3 separate regions of the Homo sapiens genome follow, and regions 1 and 2 are each linked to region 3. Evidence: fine-mapped expression QTL. A gene starts in region 3. Each other region holds a variant in brackets. All regions are shown on one strand. Distances are between the middles of the regions.

What was found. PIP is the estimated chance that this variant, and not a neighbour inherited with it, causes the effect.
Region 1: its variant is the best candidate, but not a certain one, in a credible set for the expression of LRRC8C in lung (TOPMed, PIP 0.76).
Region 2: its variant is the best candidate, but not a certain one, in a credible set for the expression of LRRC8C in T cells (TOPMed, PIP 0.66).

The regions. Positions count from the first base shown.
Region 1 is chr1:89,716,773-89,722,788 of GRCh38, reverse strand. It overlaps LRRC8C (leucine rich repeat containing 8 VRAC subunit C), which reads right to left. Exons shown (of 3, transcript NM_032270.5): 3 at 3,256-6,016. Among named protein-coding and RNA genes, the nearest start is that of LRRC8C, 87 kb to the right of the region's middle. The variant G/C (reference allele first, on the strand shown) is at 3,242.
Region 2 is chr1:89,690,086-89,696,101 of GRCh38, reverse strand. The region is part of intron 2 of LRRC8C (leucine rich repeat containing 8 VRAC subunit C); the gene reads right to left. Among named protein-coding and RNA genes, the nearest start is that of LRRC8C, 60 kb to the right of the region's middle. The variant G/A (reference allele first, on the strand shown) is at 2,942.
Region 3 is chr1:89,629,634-89,635,649 of GRCh38, reverse strand. LRRC8C (leucine rich repeat containing 8 VRAC subunit C) reads right to left here and starts at 2,530. Exons shown (of 3, transcript NM_032270.5): 1 at 2,328-2,530. It overlaps LRRC8C-DT (LRRC8C divergent transcript), which reads left to right and starts at 2,756. Exons shown (of 3, transcript NR_033981.1): 1 at 2,756-2,993; 2 at 3,441-3,634. RefSeq lists enhancers at 1,559-1,608, 1,639-1,688 and a silencer at 2,069-2,728.

The sequences.
Region 1 (6,016 bases), 87 kb before region 3:
TTTGGATGGACGGACTGACAACAGAAAGGGCATTTCTATGAATATCCCAATACTCTGTGTGCCCCGTCTGATCAAAGTACATAAATAGAGTAAGTATAACTCCTTTATTATTGAGCCTACTTAAAGCATTTGTAGAATCCTGGATAAATTTTTGTATAATTTTTTTCCTCCCTGTATATATAAGAAAAAAAATGATTCTAAACATTTGAAAACAACCCAGAATGCAACTTTTGTCTTACAGTTGTTTACCATAGTGTAGTGCTGTGCTATTAAGAATATCCACGCAGGATATAGTTTGGCAGGTGGGGAGATGGGGAGGGGGATGGAGAATGTCATTATCAGTTTTTCCCATAAGATTTTGAAGTTAACTTCCTGGCATTTTTGATGCAAGTTCTTGATCAGATTTATAACTGAAGCACTTAATAGTCACTAGCAGTTTCTGAGTTAGGGAACGTTACCTGAAAATAATTACCTAGCTGGTTTGCAGTACTTCAGATTTGATTATTATTATTATTATTATTATTATTATTATTTTTTTTTTTTTGAGACGGAGTCTCGCTCTGTCGCCCAGGCTGGAGTGCAGTGGCGGGATCTCGGCTCACTGCAAGCTCCGCCTCCCGGGTTCACCCCATTCTCCGCCTCAGCCTCCCAAGTAGCTGGGACTACAGGCGCCCGCCACTACGCCTGGCTAATTTTTTGTGTTTTTTAGTAGAGACGGGGTTTCACCATTTTAGCCGGGATGGTCTCGATCTCCTGACCTCGTGATCCGCCCGCCTCGGCCTCCCAAAGTGCTGGGATTACAGGCGTGAGCCACCGCGCCCGGCCCAGATTTGATTATTTTAAAGCTGGTAGAATTTGAAGGGCAACAAATCATTCTGAATTTTAGAAAGTGTGTTAAGCACCCCTTATCAGGAGTCTGCTTTCTAAGCTCCATTCTCCCCTTGCCCCCCAACAAATGACAGCCTTATTTAATATAAACCAGGTGTTTAATCTGACATTCTTTGTATTTCCCATTTGACATGAAATCAGTTTCTTTGAGAGGTTACGTGGACTTAAGAAAATATTTACGTAGCTAAATGTTTAGATTGGAATCTCTAGTTTTTAGTTTTACAAGTATGAATTTATTTTAAATACTTCATCACTTAAGGCTGTCAACATCCTGTCTTTGTTTCTAAATGCATAAAACTACTAAATCTGTTAGCATGCTGATATTGTTAAGGCTCAAAGTGTGATTACCAGGGAAGTCTATGAGTCACACCACCAGAGGCTAGAACCTGGGGGAGAGTTCAGAAAAAATAGTCTTCTAATTTTGAACAAATTGACTTCCTGTTGGTAAGGCTCACAGAAACGCCCTGCACCCATTGAATAAAACTTGGTTTTCATTTTGATATCATTGTTGTACATGGCCTTTTAGAATTTTGTTAAGAGTGGCAACTTTGACAACCTAGTTTTCACAAAGAAATTTAAATTACTAAGATATAATTTATCCATACAGCTCAATAGACATGAATAGAACTCATTTCATAAGCTTGTGGACATTTATTGCTCAAATGCATAGGGAGTACATCTTTACATTTTTGCATTGGTTTTCATTATTCTTGGACTAAATCATCCTAAGAAAGATTTTTAAGCTGTCTGAATATTAGAGTATGATTTTAACAAAACTGTCACACATAGTCTATGTTAAATTACAATGAAATCCCAAGAACCTTCCCAATTCAAAGTGAAGAAATGCTATATATTTTTTTTGCCATATCAGCATCACTTCTGGGGAGTTGATTTTTTTTTTTTTAATTAGAAGAACTGTGGAGGAGATAAAAAATGTAAAACTTAGAGGTTGCCTCTTTTGTGTCACTTTTCCTGAGATGTCTTTTACCTGAGGCTAATAAGGATTGAACCAAGCAGTATTTTTTTAATGGCAAAAGTCCAGATGTAACTCGAGTTGAAATAAAATTAATTCTGTAAAGGATTAAAAAATAAGGAGAAAGCCCATTTTCTACTTCTCAAACTTTATAACAGAAAAATCCCTGGATTAAAATAATTGGAATGGCCAATTTGGTTTAGATGTTTGATATCATTGCCTACCCTGTATCTTTTATGCAAAATATTCAAACTCTGGGAATATTCTATCACTTATGATATGCCTGATCATATAACTATTTTAATAATTTGTCCCTAAATATGTTCAAATATGTTTAAATGTGAAACCTACAGTATAGTCTGCATTCAAACATCTATGCTCACACAAAATTATGTAGCTAATGAACAGCTTTCACTTTTTTCCTACTTGCAAATTTAGGATGACATTCAAACTTACATTCAGAAATATGTGGGCCTTGTGCTCTGACCGTGTAAATACTCCACTGAGTCTCAAATGAACTTTAATAACTTCCTTTTTATGCATTTACTTCTTCACCCAAACGAAAAGCTTATGTTGCTAGCCAATAATAACCAATTTAAAATTTTTCAGAGTTTATCTCAATACTCTGTGTAAGTGAAAGGACTAGAAGATGGGACAGTGGAGAATGGCAGTGGGCAGTTTTTTCTGTACGTGCAGATTGCACTGAAATCGCCAGATGTCTCTAATCTATTGCATTCCCTAGCTCCTTTCCAGAATTTCTCCAGAGCTCTCACATGATCTCTTCTAATTTGTGCTACTCACACTTACACAGCCTCTCCCATCACACTCACCACCCTTCCTTATCTCAACAATCCTTCTCCAGAGGGCTGATGATCAGTAAAATAAACACTATTATTAATAAAAATGTGTAAAGGGACTATTTAACTTTGAAAATTACCCATCATTTCTTATGCGTAAGTGGTCATAAAGTTTCCTTGTAGAGGGCTTCCCTAAGCCTGGAGTGAATGTGGTTAATTAGAGGAGGCCTCCTAGCTGTGCAGGATCATGCTGATTCCTTTAAGTAACCACAGTCATTACTATAAGACTATTTACTGAAAGCTGAGCTGGACAGCCATTGTACAATCTCATCTGGCAAACGTACAGAAATTGCACTCCAGATTACATATGAAGGCACTAATTACCCAAATGAAACTCCAGGGGCACCTTAGGTAGATACAGTAGAGTGAATTAAGGAAGGAAATAATTAGTCACAATTACAGAAACTAGCTCAACACAAAGTGAAAGAATGCATGCAGCTTATTTCCTGCAGAGAAAAGGGAGCTTTAGTAATAGTTTAAGAAATGCAAACGATAAACATGATTTCTAAAAATGAGTAAGAGA[G/C]GGACAAATATCTATTTTAAGTTATAAAAATGACTTTATTTTTCTGTTTCTATGTACTACATATCCAAATAACATTAAGACATTTTATCATGAATTTGCACTATGACAAATCAACTTTCAAGCATTTTCTTGACAGTTTTAGAGGTTTTGCCAGCTTTTGACATACATACAGACAGAGTAAACAAGGGGAAAAAAGAAAACTTAGTGAGCACGTAAGTCATGGAGTTTGAGCTCCAATAAAAATATTCATTAAAGAGGAAGAATAAGGTGGGGGGTGGAGAGAGGTATTCTGAAGAAAGAAACAAATTTACCTCACATTAAAAACCATGCATAGGAACTGTTATCAAACACAGCCAAGAAATTAAGTTTTCCAAATTTATATACCCCCCTTTCAAGGTATTCTGATAAAAAAATTCCTTTGGGCAGGGGGAGATCCTCCTCCACCTTTCAAAAATGAACTTAAGGATGCTACCTTTATCGGTGAGTGACTTTGGGAAGATGGAATGAGTGGATGCTTAGTTTGGATGGCTGGCAGGAAACTTTCAGGAGCATGTCACTGAGGCCTAAATCTTATAAAATCATGGCAGGTCTGGTGAAGACTGTCCAAGGTTTCTTGCAATGTTTCTAAGTAGAAAGAAAAGATGAGAAAATTTTCTTGATCTTTTAAGCAGTCTGCTAAGAACCAAGCTGTTTAACTAATTTGTTTTGCTAACTTGAGGTTAGTATGGAATGCTATCCTGAGTTACTAAGAGCTTAATAAAATTTGACTGTTTGAATCACATTATCACATTCAGAATTCATAGGATAATGTTAATTGAATCTTAATTTAGTCTCTAAAAACAAAGTGGAATTATATTCAAATTGACTTTATCTGTTCACTACTAAGTATGCTGACACTTTTCATAATGATGGATTAGGAATCTTTGCTGCTTAAATATATCATTTCTATTGATCAGGTATTTGGTATGAAATTAGATTAGAGGTAAAAGAAACTACTTAAAGAATGAACTTTTCTTATAATAGAAAATAAATAACAGCACAACCCTTCTTGGGGGAAGTGTTAATAAGAGATATAAAGATTTTGTTTTTTCTTTTTTAATATCAGAAATCCTGAAATAGCATACTGTAAGAATTTGGACTTCACTTAACCCAAGTAAATACAAGGAAGATTTTTGTCTAAGACCCTCTCCACAAAGACAACTTGAGAGCCAGGTAAATGGCTACATCTGAACAAAATATTCATAGCAGGTATGTTTTCCAGGTCTTTCTGAAAAAGCAGTACCTACTGCATACGATGCAATGTAAATTGTTGAAACTCCTTGAAACAGATGGGAAATACAATGGCAGGGGAAGGGGTGGGTGAAGAATAACTTACACTTGAAATAAGAGATTTCACTGTATCAAGAATCTTTATATTAAAAGAGCTGCATTAAAAACAAAAGCAAATCAAACCCAACACATAATGAGAAAATGCAATAATTTCTGAGGTGTGGTCTTCTTTGGTGAGTTCCACTGGGATATATTTATATGCTCTCTTTCAACCAGGCCATCACCAAACAATTGTTTGTTCTGTACTTAACAATTAAAACTGACAAAAAGACTTTTTCATCATGAGCTTCAAGCAGCCATAGGAGTTAAGAACACATATGGTGCTTTTATATTTACACAAGCAATCTCTCATGAGTCCTATAGAGATTGGGGAAATAGAGCTATAATAGTTATTCCTTTTTAGAAAGAGCACTTGTAAAATACGGAAAGTGGTTAGATAAATATCCCTCTATACAGAATTGATCAGTTAAAGAACTTTAGAAAAGTCAGCAGTTCATTACCTGAGTTTCCCAGTTAAGGGCTAACTAGTAATTAAATGTTTTTTTTACTTAAGAAAGTGAACAAAAACTTACAATATTAAAAGGGGCCAGTGTCAGAAAATTTAGACTCAAAATTAAGTTTCAGACTTTTGAAGGTTTATAAAATCTAATAGGAATATCTATGAATTTTCCTTCTTAGTTAAAACATGAAGTCACAGAACTATACTGACTTACCAGATGTTATCAAAACTTAGGTTGGGGGTCAGCCTGCAAAATCACTAAAAAACAAATCAATATTTTTTTGGAATTTTGAGCAAATTTTTACAAGTGATAAAAATGAATTATTAGTGACCTCGGTTATGAACCCATATGAGATTTTTAGTTAACACCAGATAAAGACTTCAGCATAAGCGTGATTTTTAACCTGAAGAGATCCCTTTTGAAGGGTAATATAGAAAATAACTATAAATTTTATCCAGAAAAATAGTGCACCCAGTGTTTTGCCAGCAGTTACCTAAGCTTGCCTTTCGACGAGGTATTTTTGTCATGCTCAACCATGGACAATCGGCCAACAAATTATTTGTTTAAAACAGATAGGGCTATGTTTCTAAATACAACACATTATTCAAACTCAGGATTCCAACACTATTCTGAAATTGAATACTTTATCATACAAGAACTATAACCATGTTATTATTCTGAGCACATTATTTCAATTCCAGGTCTAAATTAATCAGCAAAATCACCATTCTAAAACATTAACATAGAGCAGAAACGTAAAGCACTTTGGTCTGTATAATTAGATTATTAAACAAATCGAAAGAATCTCTTTCCCTAATGCTTCACCTCATGATGTAAAGTTGAAAACACAACTTAGGAACACATTTCTGAGGAGCAATTCCCAACATTTGTTTCTGTATACAACTCAAAGCAGCACTGAGTAAATTCACCCAAAGAACAATTTTAA
Region 2 (6,016 bases), 60 kb before region 3:
TGTTTGTCAAGACTCAACTAATCACACTTATGACTATATGAAGATGCCCCAAATGAAGAGAAGGCAGTTTTTTGTTTTGTTTTTCAATTGGGGAGGATCAGAGTAATTGCCCAGAGAAGACATTTTGAGGTCTACAGTTTCTAAAGAGACTAAAAACAATACATTTCTATTTTATCACCATTTTTTTCACAATAAAACTGTAAAATGGAAGTGATGCCTATCCTGCTCATTTTATAAAACTGGGCCTCAGAAAAGCCATGTGTTTCACCTAAACTCATACTAAGAGCATATGAGAGAGCCCATGCTTTCTGTTTGAAGTTTTGGGGAAAGATTTTGTTTTTTCTCTTTAAATTAACTTGATCTAGCTGAAATTATTATTTTTTTTAAATCCAGGTTTTCTATTTCCAGTGAGCATATAAGGTTTCTTACAAGGTAAAATGATGAGATAGTTGATGGCCTATTTATTAGACAAAAGATTTTTGCAGAATTCTAAAAATATAAAATTAAGTGACTACTAACTGATATAATCATGCATACAAGTGTTCTACAAGTGAATATCACTACAACACTGTCTCAGCTTGCATTAAGCATTTTCTGAGTCCAATATCTATCACCTATAACATTTAACATCAACATCCTAAACAGTAAGTTAACATATTGAACTTAAGGTCACATAGCCCCAGCTTTGGATATCAGTGCAAAGAATCTCACCAGCTTTTAAGAACTAAAATAACTTGAGTAGGGAGATGCCAATTCTATTTTAAGATAGCTGACCCTATTACTGCCAGTAGTTCAAACACTTCTTAGGAAACTTAACATTTTGAACTTGTCATTACATGATGAAAAATGTCACTATGTATGTTCAAAAGCCTTTATATAGGGCCGGGCGCGGTGGTTCATGCCTGTAATCCCAGCACTTTGGGAGCCCGAGGGGGGCAGATCACCTGAGGTCAGGAGTTTGAGACCAGCCTGGCCAACATGGTGAAACCCCATCTCTACTAAAAATACAAAAATTAGCTGGGCATGGTGGCTCACGTCTGTAGTCCCAGTTACTCGGGAGGCTGAGGCAGGTGAATTGCTTGAACCCAGGAGGTGGAGGTTGCAGTGAGCCAAGATTGAGCCACTGCACTCCAGCCTGGGCGACAGTGAGACTCTGTATCAAAAAAAAAAAAAAAAAGTCTTTATACTTTTATTAGAAACAGGAAGTGCTATTATAACAAAAAAGCTGGGCATGGGCTGGGCTCCCAGCACTTTGGGAGGCTGAGGCGGGTGGATCACTTGAGGTCAGAAGTTTGAGACCATTCTGGCCAACATGGTGAAAGCCCGTCTCTACTAAAAATACAAAAATTAGCTGGGTGTGGTGGTGCATGGATGTAATCTCAACTACTAGGGAAGCTGAGGCAGGAGAACCACTTGAACCCGGGAAGTGGAGTTGCAGTGAGATCATGCCAATGCACACATTCCAGCCTGGGTGACAGAGTGAGACTCCATCTCAAAAAAAAAAAAAAAAAAAAAAGAAGCTGGGCATGGTGTCACGCACCTGTAATCCCAGCTACTCAGGAAGCTGAGGCAGGAAGATCACTAGAGCCCAGGAGTTTCAAAGCAGCCTGCGCAACAGAGTGAGAACTCGTCTCCAAAATAACAAAACAAACGAAACAAAATGAAGCAGAGCTGAAAGTCCTTGTTTGCTAGAAACCCCCAAGTGGACATCTGTAGAATGTTACCATGCCCCACAAGTCTTATCTTCTGTAATACACCATATCACTTTTTTCTCCCTGGAATATAATTTATTCCTGTATTCCTATAACCACCCTGTATACAGTCCACATAAAATTGGAATTCAGTCCACATAAAATTGTCAAGGTGATAGATGACAAGAAGTAAAATTCTAGGGAAGATCAAAAGTGTCAGTTCAAATAAACCACCATAAAAAGAAGGTCCCAACTAAGGCATATTTTTGATACTAGATGTAACAGAGGTTTTGAAATAGTGTTTCTTTCACACCATTCACTACCATCCCCACAGAGATGACAAAGGTTGCTCTTTACAATTATTTTCACTATCTAAATAATTTTTGTTTTATATTCCCCAAAGACCCTAGTAGAACGGAGATGTAAGGTGGGTACATGGAAACTTTATACAACTGGGCCGGTGCAGTAGCTCACACCTGTAATCCCAGCACTTTGGAAGGCTGAGGTGGGTGGATCACTCTAGGCCAGGAGTTCAAGACCAACCTGGCCAAAATGGTTAAACTCTGTCTCCACTAAAAATACAAAAATTAGCTGGGTGTGGTGGTGCATGCTTGTAAACCCAGCTACTCAGGTGGCTGAGGTATGAGAATTGCTTGAACTGGGAGGCAGAGGTTGCAGTGAGCCGAGACCGCGCCTCTGCACTCCAGCCTGGGTGACAGAGTGAGACTCTGTCTCAAAAAAAAAAAAAAAAAAAAAAAAAAAAAGGAAGAAAAGATAAAAGAAAAGGAACATATCTGAGATGAGGTCTTGATTTTAAGCCTTCACTTCTATCTGTGATTTCATCAGTATTCTGATGTAATCAGTATTACTGATTCTAAGTAAGAATTTCTGGGCTTCTATCTATAAAATTCAAATTTGGCCAAAGAAAAAGATCTACTAGAAATCCCAGACAGTATACAGCAGATGACTGCATGGGGGGAGTAGAAGCAAGAATTCAGGGCACATTGTCAAAATGAAGTCTTCTGATATCATTCTGGAATCTATAATTCTGATTGCCTGTACTTTCCAGTGAACTGCCTATGAGCATTTTCACCTGAAGGTCATTTGTCATGGAGCTGACATTGATGGCTCTAAATCAGAGAAGTAGAAATTAATTTCAGTATGCCCTAAAAATCAAAGCGGGGATCAGCTCTAACCAAAAAACTCACATGTCCTAACCTTTTTGATAGTGTGACCCTGCTGGCCACTTC[G/A]CTCCTAGTGATTGGGTTAAATCTTCCAGGATTTTTTTGTAGGTGGCTTTGTCATTGAAATAATTCTTTTTTCCCCTCCAAATTCAGAAAGCAGGAAATGTCTTTTCTATGTCACAATCACAAGGCAGGTCCCCTAGGGCTTCCAGGGGGCTTGCATCTTCCAGTTCCTGTTTCTGGTTTCTAACTGCTAATTCTATATTTGGTAACGGTCTGCCCATGGGCTGTTTTGGATTTGGTCATAATAAGATAACCTGGAGTCACTGAGCAGAGATCTAAAGCAATCTTATTTTTCCAGGAAGCAACGTGTTGACCTTTCAGGATATGGTCTATTTTGTTGAATGTGTTGAGTTTTTGAATAGTGTTGTTTATAGCACAAAGTTGGGTGTTTACACTATTGGTCCTTGAGGGTGTATGACTGTACAGGAATAGGACAGACACATATACTCCTACACTCTCCTGGCTTATAGTGAGTTTATATTTGTTCTTATGTGGATTGATGTAATCTAAGGAATGCTCTTTATACATGCTCTTATTTCATGGCAGCCTTGAAAAGAGCTACTTGCTCAGAAATGAATAAATATTTGTCAGACAAGTAAGGCAAAAGTGCTGGTTCTAATCCTTTTACATAAGTGCAAGAAAGAATCAACATCCCCTTGATAGAAAATAATCTCCTTAATCCCCCAGTATTTTCCAAGCTGAGTAGTGTTGAACCTATATGAATACAATCTTTTAGGAGTAAACAGATATCAACTGTTAACTTGACATGAAAAAAGCAACTTACAAAATAGTTACTCTAAAAGCTGTTGGATTACTATTTTATCATCAAAGAGTGTTCTTCTAACTTCACCTTAGATTTTGCCTTGTCATGTATTCCAATATAGGAGTTAACTTGCTTTGTAAATAAGATCAGAAAGAATGATACACTTTCAATTTACAAGTGGAAAATCAAGACATAAAAATATATTTTAACAATTTTAACATCGCCTTGGGAATGAGAAAGGAACTTGAGCTTCACAGAGAATCCTTTGTTTATAAAGTTATCAGTCATTAAGCCATTTTTAGTGGATTATCATAGCAGAGCTAAAATAAGAGCTTAAATTCTTCCCCTATGGAACATTAATTTGTTATATGGATCCTAGGTAGTTTTACTTTGATAATTTGTACCATGCATTCTTTCTTGTTTTGTTAATGCTCACTATAGAGTGCAAATTTTTCTTTTTAAATAGCAGGTATATAGTGAATGCCCCTTAAAATTTTAATTTATAATTCATAAAATTGATACTTTTTGTAACGATTTTCTCTTTTTATCATTTTGTACTTGCTTTTACACTGAAAATCCTGTTTTATAAGCCAAACCTTGCCCTCACAATCTGTGCAATTGTGATGGTTCCATAATATTTGATAGCAGTGTGCACAGGGGTGACAGACGCCTCATGGAGAATCAGCCTAAGATTGGAATCTCAGCTGCATCCCTCTTGGCTTTGGGGCAAGTTATCTAACCTTCTACACTTTGGAATTCTCATCTGAAAAATGGGACTAATCTACTTTCACAGGTTTGTTCTGGGAACTAAATAAAGTACATACAGATTCTAGCACAGGTTCTCTTGCCAGTGTTACTCCATGGATGTGCTATTAGCATTCTGGATAAAACAATTCTGCTGTGTGGGAATGTCCCACCGATTGCAGGATGTTTAATATCCCTGACCCCACCCTCTCCGAAAAATGCCATCTGGGCCCTCCGGTCACTGTGCCAATCCATGAGGGCTTTGTAAAATGATCACACTAAATATTCTGTTAATGCTGAGTTTTCCCCTTCATGCGTCTTATTAAAATATATATTTTGGTTTTGTATATTCATTCTTTGAGACTTCACTCAATTATCTTCTTGAGTCCCTCACTTCCAGTGACTGAGATGACAACATCATATTTGATGCTCTTGAGGCACCATTAAGGCATTTACATATTGGAAAACATTGCTTATGTGTTTCTATGGTCTTCAGACAATTAGCAATCTGAAGGCATGGGCTGTGCTGTTTTTCTTTTAGCATCTAACACCCCACAGAGTGTCTGATATATTGCTGATGCACAGGATTGTTTGTTGAATTGAGTAGTCCACCCCGTATGAATTCTGTGCCCTGCAGCCTTCATATTCTGAAGCAATATTTCTTTTGGCATCTCACTTTTTCTCAGAACCTTGTCATCTCAGACAACACTTCTTGTACCCAGTCAACTGGCATCAGATTTCTTTTTAACGGCTGAAGAGATGAAAAAGGCCTATGTGTGAAGGGCCCAGGTTAGTTAACCTGTCTGAGCAGGAGCCACTGATTGTGCGAGGTAAGAGTGGTGGTGCTGAGAAGGCTGGTCAGCGGGGAGCCCAAAAGCCTTCTGGACTGTAGAGAGACACTGTGGGGCTGTGCTGCAGGAAGATGATTCTGACCAGCACACAGGAAAAGAGGTTTAGCTTGTGCTTGAATTCCCTCCTGAACTTACCGCAGGCACATCTCCTAAATGATGCTCATTATAGACATTTTCATAGGTACACTCTTATTTTCATTCATTTCATTGCAAGTTAACTATTTATTCTAAAAGATTTTCTGTGTTCTTTCTCTTTTCATCCTGCCATGGAATGTGTAAACAAGAGAAACAATTCCGTGTGCTTGTTAGGCAGATCCTGCAGCAGCGCTCTGAGCCATGGCACAGTAATAAAGACAGGTTGATAGTGCTCCCGCTAATCTATGTCACCTTCCTCTACTATTTCCCAAGCTAGCCACCCCAAATCTAACCTTCTCCTTGAGACCCCTGCTCTACTACCTTCCTTATTGCCAATTCCTACTGCATTCCTCACCCTCACAACCTCTCAGTAAATGTTGTTTTCTCCATCACAGAGAAACAACAAGCCATAAGGCACAGACGCCTGTCTTTCTGTCTCCCTACCAAATAAAAATGTATCTGTAGCTATCATTCCCATTCTGGTGGATGATGCCTCCTCCACCCAAATCAGGGATAATCCTTCCACCTAGATCCTGGATCTTCACCTCGTTCCTCCTGAAAATGACCATCACTAACCCCAAACTC
Region 3 (6,016 bases):
ATATAGTCACTATGGTGAGTTAACAACAAATTTATATAGAAAAAATAAATAAGCAGCTTTGGATAATAAAAAAAAGTATATCATTAAGACTAAGGAGGCTTGGCTTCATTCAGGCACTAACTTAGCTGCATAGTCTTCAGCCAAATCAGAAACTCTGAACTTCCTTCTTATGTAAAATGTGGATGGCACCATTTACCTTAGGGGTTCATTGTAAGAACCTGAGATAATGTGTATTAGGTATCTAGCATGCAGCTAGATTATGTTATAGCAATGTACCATATTAAATCATTAACACAATTCTTGGCAAAATAAATATAGTTTCCACCTCATTTCATTTTAAACTTAGGCTCGCTCTATTATAATGTCATAGGTGACTATAACTTAATAATACTATAGAGTATTAAAAATCATAACAATTTGGTAAAAATTGAACACTTGGGAGTTAAACATATTTCTAACTTTGTATTGTTTTTTAAAAGATAAACTTCATGGAAATAAAGTGCAACATTTTCATTCATTTATCTTACAGCTCCTAATGCATTATTTTCACTAAAAGCATTCCCTTTTAAAAATACATTTCATTAAAGTGCTTAATCTGAGAAATAATAGATTAGTACTATTAATAAAGGCTTGATTTTATTAATAAGAAAATTGTTAAATATACTTGGTATCTCTGATACAATTGTTGGGTTGATGGGTCCTGTCTGTGCCCAATCTATTATGTGAACCATGGCAAATATCCATCTTTGCAAAACTGCCCTACATCCCCCTCAAAGGAAACAAACTGACCCCAAGACAGAACTTAATCACTCCAGAGTAAAGCAAACCAATTATAGCCTTGGCCTTCCCTGTTAAAGCAAGTCACAAGAAATGCAAATATCCTAGACTAGAGCTGTATACATTTAATGTTTGTTTACACACTCAACACATTGTTTATGAATTGAGCGAGTTTTATGCAGCTCAGATTACGTTTTGGGTTTTCAACAAATTATTTAAAAATAAACAGAATTTATAAATGTATAAAAATTATTGGCTCTGGCGATTTTGCAGCATTGTGCTAACCAAGAGGACTACTCCACTTTTACTCCTTTTTCGTCTAAATGGCATCTTAATGACCTGCCCACGCTGAAGCCTCATCGATGCTTTGGGAAACCATCACATACCTGTCGGGAAATGTGACTGTTGGTTAAGGCTACGTTTCTCACACTACCGCGAAAGAAGTATGTGACTTACAAACGGCTGCGATTTCCTTTACCTATTCCTTCCTTCAAAGGCTGCTTTAAATGGAGGTAATTCAAGCCTCCCCGTGCCAAACACCGGCACTCCAACAAAGATGGATTGGTTCTTATTTTTTACTTTGAGGATGGGAACCTGAAAATGTTTCCTAACGTTTGCTGAGGCTTTAACATGTTTAAGGAATTTGAAACCAAGGGAAGTTTAGCCGTAATACTCTGAAATATCCGCATTAGGATGCGGGCTAGGTGTCCGGCTGTTGCAAAACTACGGAGGATGCGAGGTTTGGAAGAAACTGTTTGGACTTTGCTGTATACCGGGCAGGCGTGGGGGTTGGGGAGGGAAGAACCGGCTGAGGGAGAAAAGAAAGGCATTCGTGTCCACAGAACACATCTAAGGCTCCTGAGTTGCTAACTCCATCCCTAATCATCTCATTGGTGGGAACCAGCTGGAAAGGGAAAGATCAGCGAGCCTAGGCGTGGGATGAAGGCAGCGGTTTTGGCCTCAACCGCTGGCCTAAACACCTGGCTTCTGGGGCCCGCCCGATCAAGCTGAACCCCTTCCCTCCTGTCCTGCAGGTGAGCACACGGTGCTCTCACGTTTCTTCGAGAAACCTTCCAATTCCTTTCCCTGCCCAAAAGTGCTAACTTCAAGGGTTCGGAGGTGGCAGGGGGGTGATAGACCGGAAAGGACTGGCCCCGGGGTCTCAGAGATTTTCGAGGTAGGAAAGAACAACGATCGCCCCGGCCACGGACGCATTTCCCCTCGCGGACCGCCCCCCCACCCCCGCGCCCAGTCTGCAGGACCTGCCGCTGCGGCGCGGCGTTGGGCGCCAGGCTGAGATCCTCGCGCGGCCGCTCGGGCTAGCGCGGATTGGGTGGGGTAGGGGTTGGCGGGCTCCTGAGCCGCAGTAGCGGAAGGTTCCCAGCACCACACGCCGGGCGGGCAACCACATTCTGCCTGTCTGAGAGCCGGGGGGAAGCAAGGACGCGAGTGAGGCGGGGCGAGTCCCGGTCCGGCGCGCACAGCGGACCGAGCGGGTGGCCCTCTGCGGGCTGCCCCTCTCCATCCCTCCGCGGATCCCCCGCCCTTACCTCCGGGCGCGAGAGTGTCGACTGGAGAAGGTGCTAGGGAGCGGCGAGCTGCCTGGGGGTCGGGCTCAGCGGCTGCCAGGGACGGCGGCGTCGCCCGCGGGGTCGCTGCTCATGGCTTGTCGCGCCCGAGCACTGCGGCCGCGGCCACGGCGGCGCCTTCCTCCTACTTCTCTTCGCGGGCTTCCAGCCGGGACGCAGCTAACGCCCCAGCCCCGCAAGCCCTCCTCCCCTCCGCCTCCCCGGCCGCGGACGGAGCCGCCTCCAGCGCCGCCCCGCACGCAGCCCGGCTAGCGGCAGCCAGCGCCGCCCAGCGCCCGGCCCCGGGGTCGCCACCGCCCGCCGAGTCGACTCCGCGGTGCCAGCCCCGCTGTGACGCAGGCCGCGCCGCCCGGGAACTTCCTCCCCTGCAGAGACCACCTCGCTCCCGGGACTCGCCAGCGAGGGATGCCGCCGGCCGCCGGGGGCCTTCTCCAGGACCAGGAGAGAAATCCTCTCTCCGCTTCACGACGCGGCCACTCCCACCCCTGAGACGCCCACCTGGCGGACTCTGAGGGAGGATTCGGCTGCGTCTAATACCACCTCCACCCCTCATCCCTCACAATGCGCGGAAAACCACAGGCGGCTGTGCGCGCAGCGTCGGCTCAGCCACCGCAGCTCCTCCCCTGGGTAAGTTAGAGGGGAGCAGCCACCACTAAAAATAGCCCTTCTGGGAACTCCTCCGAAGGCCAGGGTCAGGATGAAGATAACCCCTCCACAGGAGAAGCGAAGGCCTCCTAAGAGAAGGGTGGGGAGGGGACGGTGGGATAGAATGAGGAAGATGGAGAAGGAGAAAAGCAAAACCCAATATCCTTGGATCATGAAGCCCTTGAGCCCCTTGACAACCAAGTCTCCTTTCAGGCCGGAATCCCCAACTGCACCGCCCCTGCAATACGGGCTAAGGGGCAGATTCCAGGGAGACTCAGTTGGAATGCCCCGCCTACAGCTCCCGCATAAAGGAGTTGACGGTGCACAGCAAAACCACCTGTTGTTTAACGAGTATGGAGGGAGGGGTTCTCTCTCATTGATTGATCTGAACCGTGCTTTTCTTCTCCCCATTTTCCCACCCAATTTCAGGATGAAAAAGCACTCTGACGTCTTGAAAGCTGGCAGCTCTCTGTTTGGAAAATCTCTGCCCAGTGAAAAAATGTACCGACAAGATTACTAAGTAACACAGTCTTCTGGGAATGCCTTATCAATGCCAGCTATTTGAAGAGCACCCAAAGTCAAACTAGTGCTCCGCGCTGGCAGTCTGGAAAAGGCAGATGTATGTGAGTAGAGAAACTGATAGACAACTAGTTGCTGGCCAGTTGGCCTGTTTTCGTGCTACAAGCCTTCAGAAAACAGTCGCCTCCTTTTACCACGTTTCTATTTCTAAACCAAAATGAAAAGGACGTTTGTTCAAAAGATATTCTCTTGGGCTTTACATTGCTTTCCCCCTGCTCACTCAGCAAAATCCTACACTTTTTTTCCAATTCCAATGCTGCTGTTGGGTGTCCTTCCCAGAAGACAACCTTAAATTCTCTTAGGCCTTAGGAGCTGAATCTAACACCAGTCTTAATTAACCTACAACAAGACAAAAATTTAGGTCCGGGCTTACCTCCTAGTCAGCAGATGGGAAAAATTCCTAGAGAGTCTCTGGGAAAAAGGCAAAGGCTAACTTTAGCAGTTTGCTAGAAAAAAAAAAATTCAAGTACCTTGTAAGTCACCAGGGTAGATGCAGCAATACTCTCTAAGGTAGCTTTACCTCTTCAATTCTCTTACCTTACCTGAATTTAAACACAGTGAGGCAAGTACCAAGGTCACAACCCTCCTGTGGAGGGCCTTATTCTGCAAGGGCTCTCTGATATACTTCTATCTTTGTACCGTTGGCACCTGACCACAAGCTTAGGCATCCCTGAAATGCTCCCTTGCTACCCAGTGTCAAGGAATCATTGAACCTTAGACTTTGTACTCAGGTGAACCAGGATGAAATCCCTATTCTTCCAGTTTAAACTTAGGAAATTTACTGTTCTTTTTATCTGCCCCCTCCCCACCACCCACATCCCCTTATCATCCCTATAGGTATAGTACTACAGGGTGCTGTGAGAATTAGCTAATATGCTCAAAGCACCAAGAACAGTGCCAATCACTTTGTAAGTAGTCAGTAAATGAGAGCTACTATTGTACTTAACTACTCTTCACTGAAAGCAAAAGAACCAGGAATAGCAAAAAGGTTTGGAAACCTGGGATCTGAATCCCCTGCAAGTTGAGTCCACCCCAAGTTGCTTTATTGCAATACTTTTGGCTACTCTTGTGTCTGCCTTCTAATTGGATCAACTGGGTAGTTCTTCACGTGTAGGCAGGTGATTCACATGCACATTAATGCTTGAAAGCCACTAGTCTAAAAACTATGCTACACTGGTTAGTTCACCTCTTCTTATTTTGTAGCATGTAAACCTTAAATCTAGTGATCTTACCTCAGTCCACCTAATTCACATTAACATCCACACTTAGCAAGCTCTCTGTAAAGGACTGGTAGAATTAGCAATCAGTCAACTTGAGTGAGGGTCTTAAAGAAGTACAAGGCTTATTCTCCGACTTCAGGGTGTTCATAGTTCATGGGAATCATGCATACACACAAACCAGAATAAACCATTTTGAAGCAAATGTGCTTGAAGTTCAGCACATCTCCAGGAAGGAGAGGGTACTGTGAGCTAGATGAACTGGGTGCACAGACTCTGTCTTGACCTTTCACTTTATACCCAATTCTTTAGGCTAAATTTTGACATTCTAATTGGACTTCCAGAGTTAGTAGTTCTCACACTAAAGACTGTGTAATTACAAGTTAACCATGTACAGGTTGGTGATAGAAGCAGAAGTAGATATTTCTGGGCTATGCAGGGCTATGGTAAGGGATTTGGAATGAAATAGGTCTGGGCTTAAATCTTGTATCTCTAGCTATGAACTTCAGTTTCCTCATCAGTCTATTGGAATATAACTACCTTTTAGGGTTGTGGTGAGACTTAGAATATCTGTAACCCCTCTAGTGGGTTGTATGGTAACAGCAATTGTGTCACATTGTTGTTTTGTTGTTAGCTGTAAGAAAACTCAGGCTGGGCTGAGTTGTTCCTTGAAGGCGTAATTAATTAATTTTTTCTGAGACAGAGTCTCATGCTGTGTGATCTCGCTGACTGCAACTTCCGCCTTCCAGGTTCAAGCAATTCTCCTTGCCTCATCCTCCTGACTAGCTGGGATTACAGGTGCCCGCCACCACGCCCAGCTAATTTTTGTATTTATTTATTTTTTTTAGTAGAGATGGGTTTTCACCATGTTGGCCAGGCTGGTCTCAAACTCCTGACCTCAGGTGATCCACCCGCCTTGGCCTCCCAAAGTGCTGGGATTATAGGCATGAGCCACCACGCCTGGCCTGAAGGCATAATTTAAAAGTCACCTTCTCTATGAAGCCTCCACAGGTTCTAGGCAAGTATAACTCTTCCTTCCTTGTGTGACCACAGCACTTACCATGGCATGCTCTCATTTGTCTCTTTACATGCCTCTTCACTACAGAGTCTGGGAGCCTCTCCAGGGCAGGGCTGTATCTTGATTCACTTTTATGTCCATTATCAATACCCTGCACAGGACCTGATATTAAATATTGAAATAATGAGTTT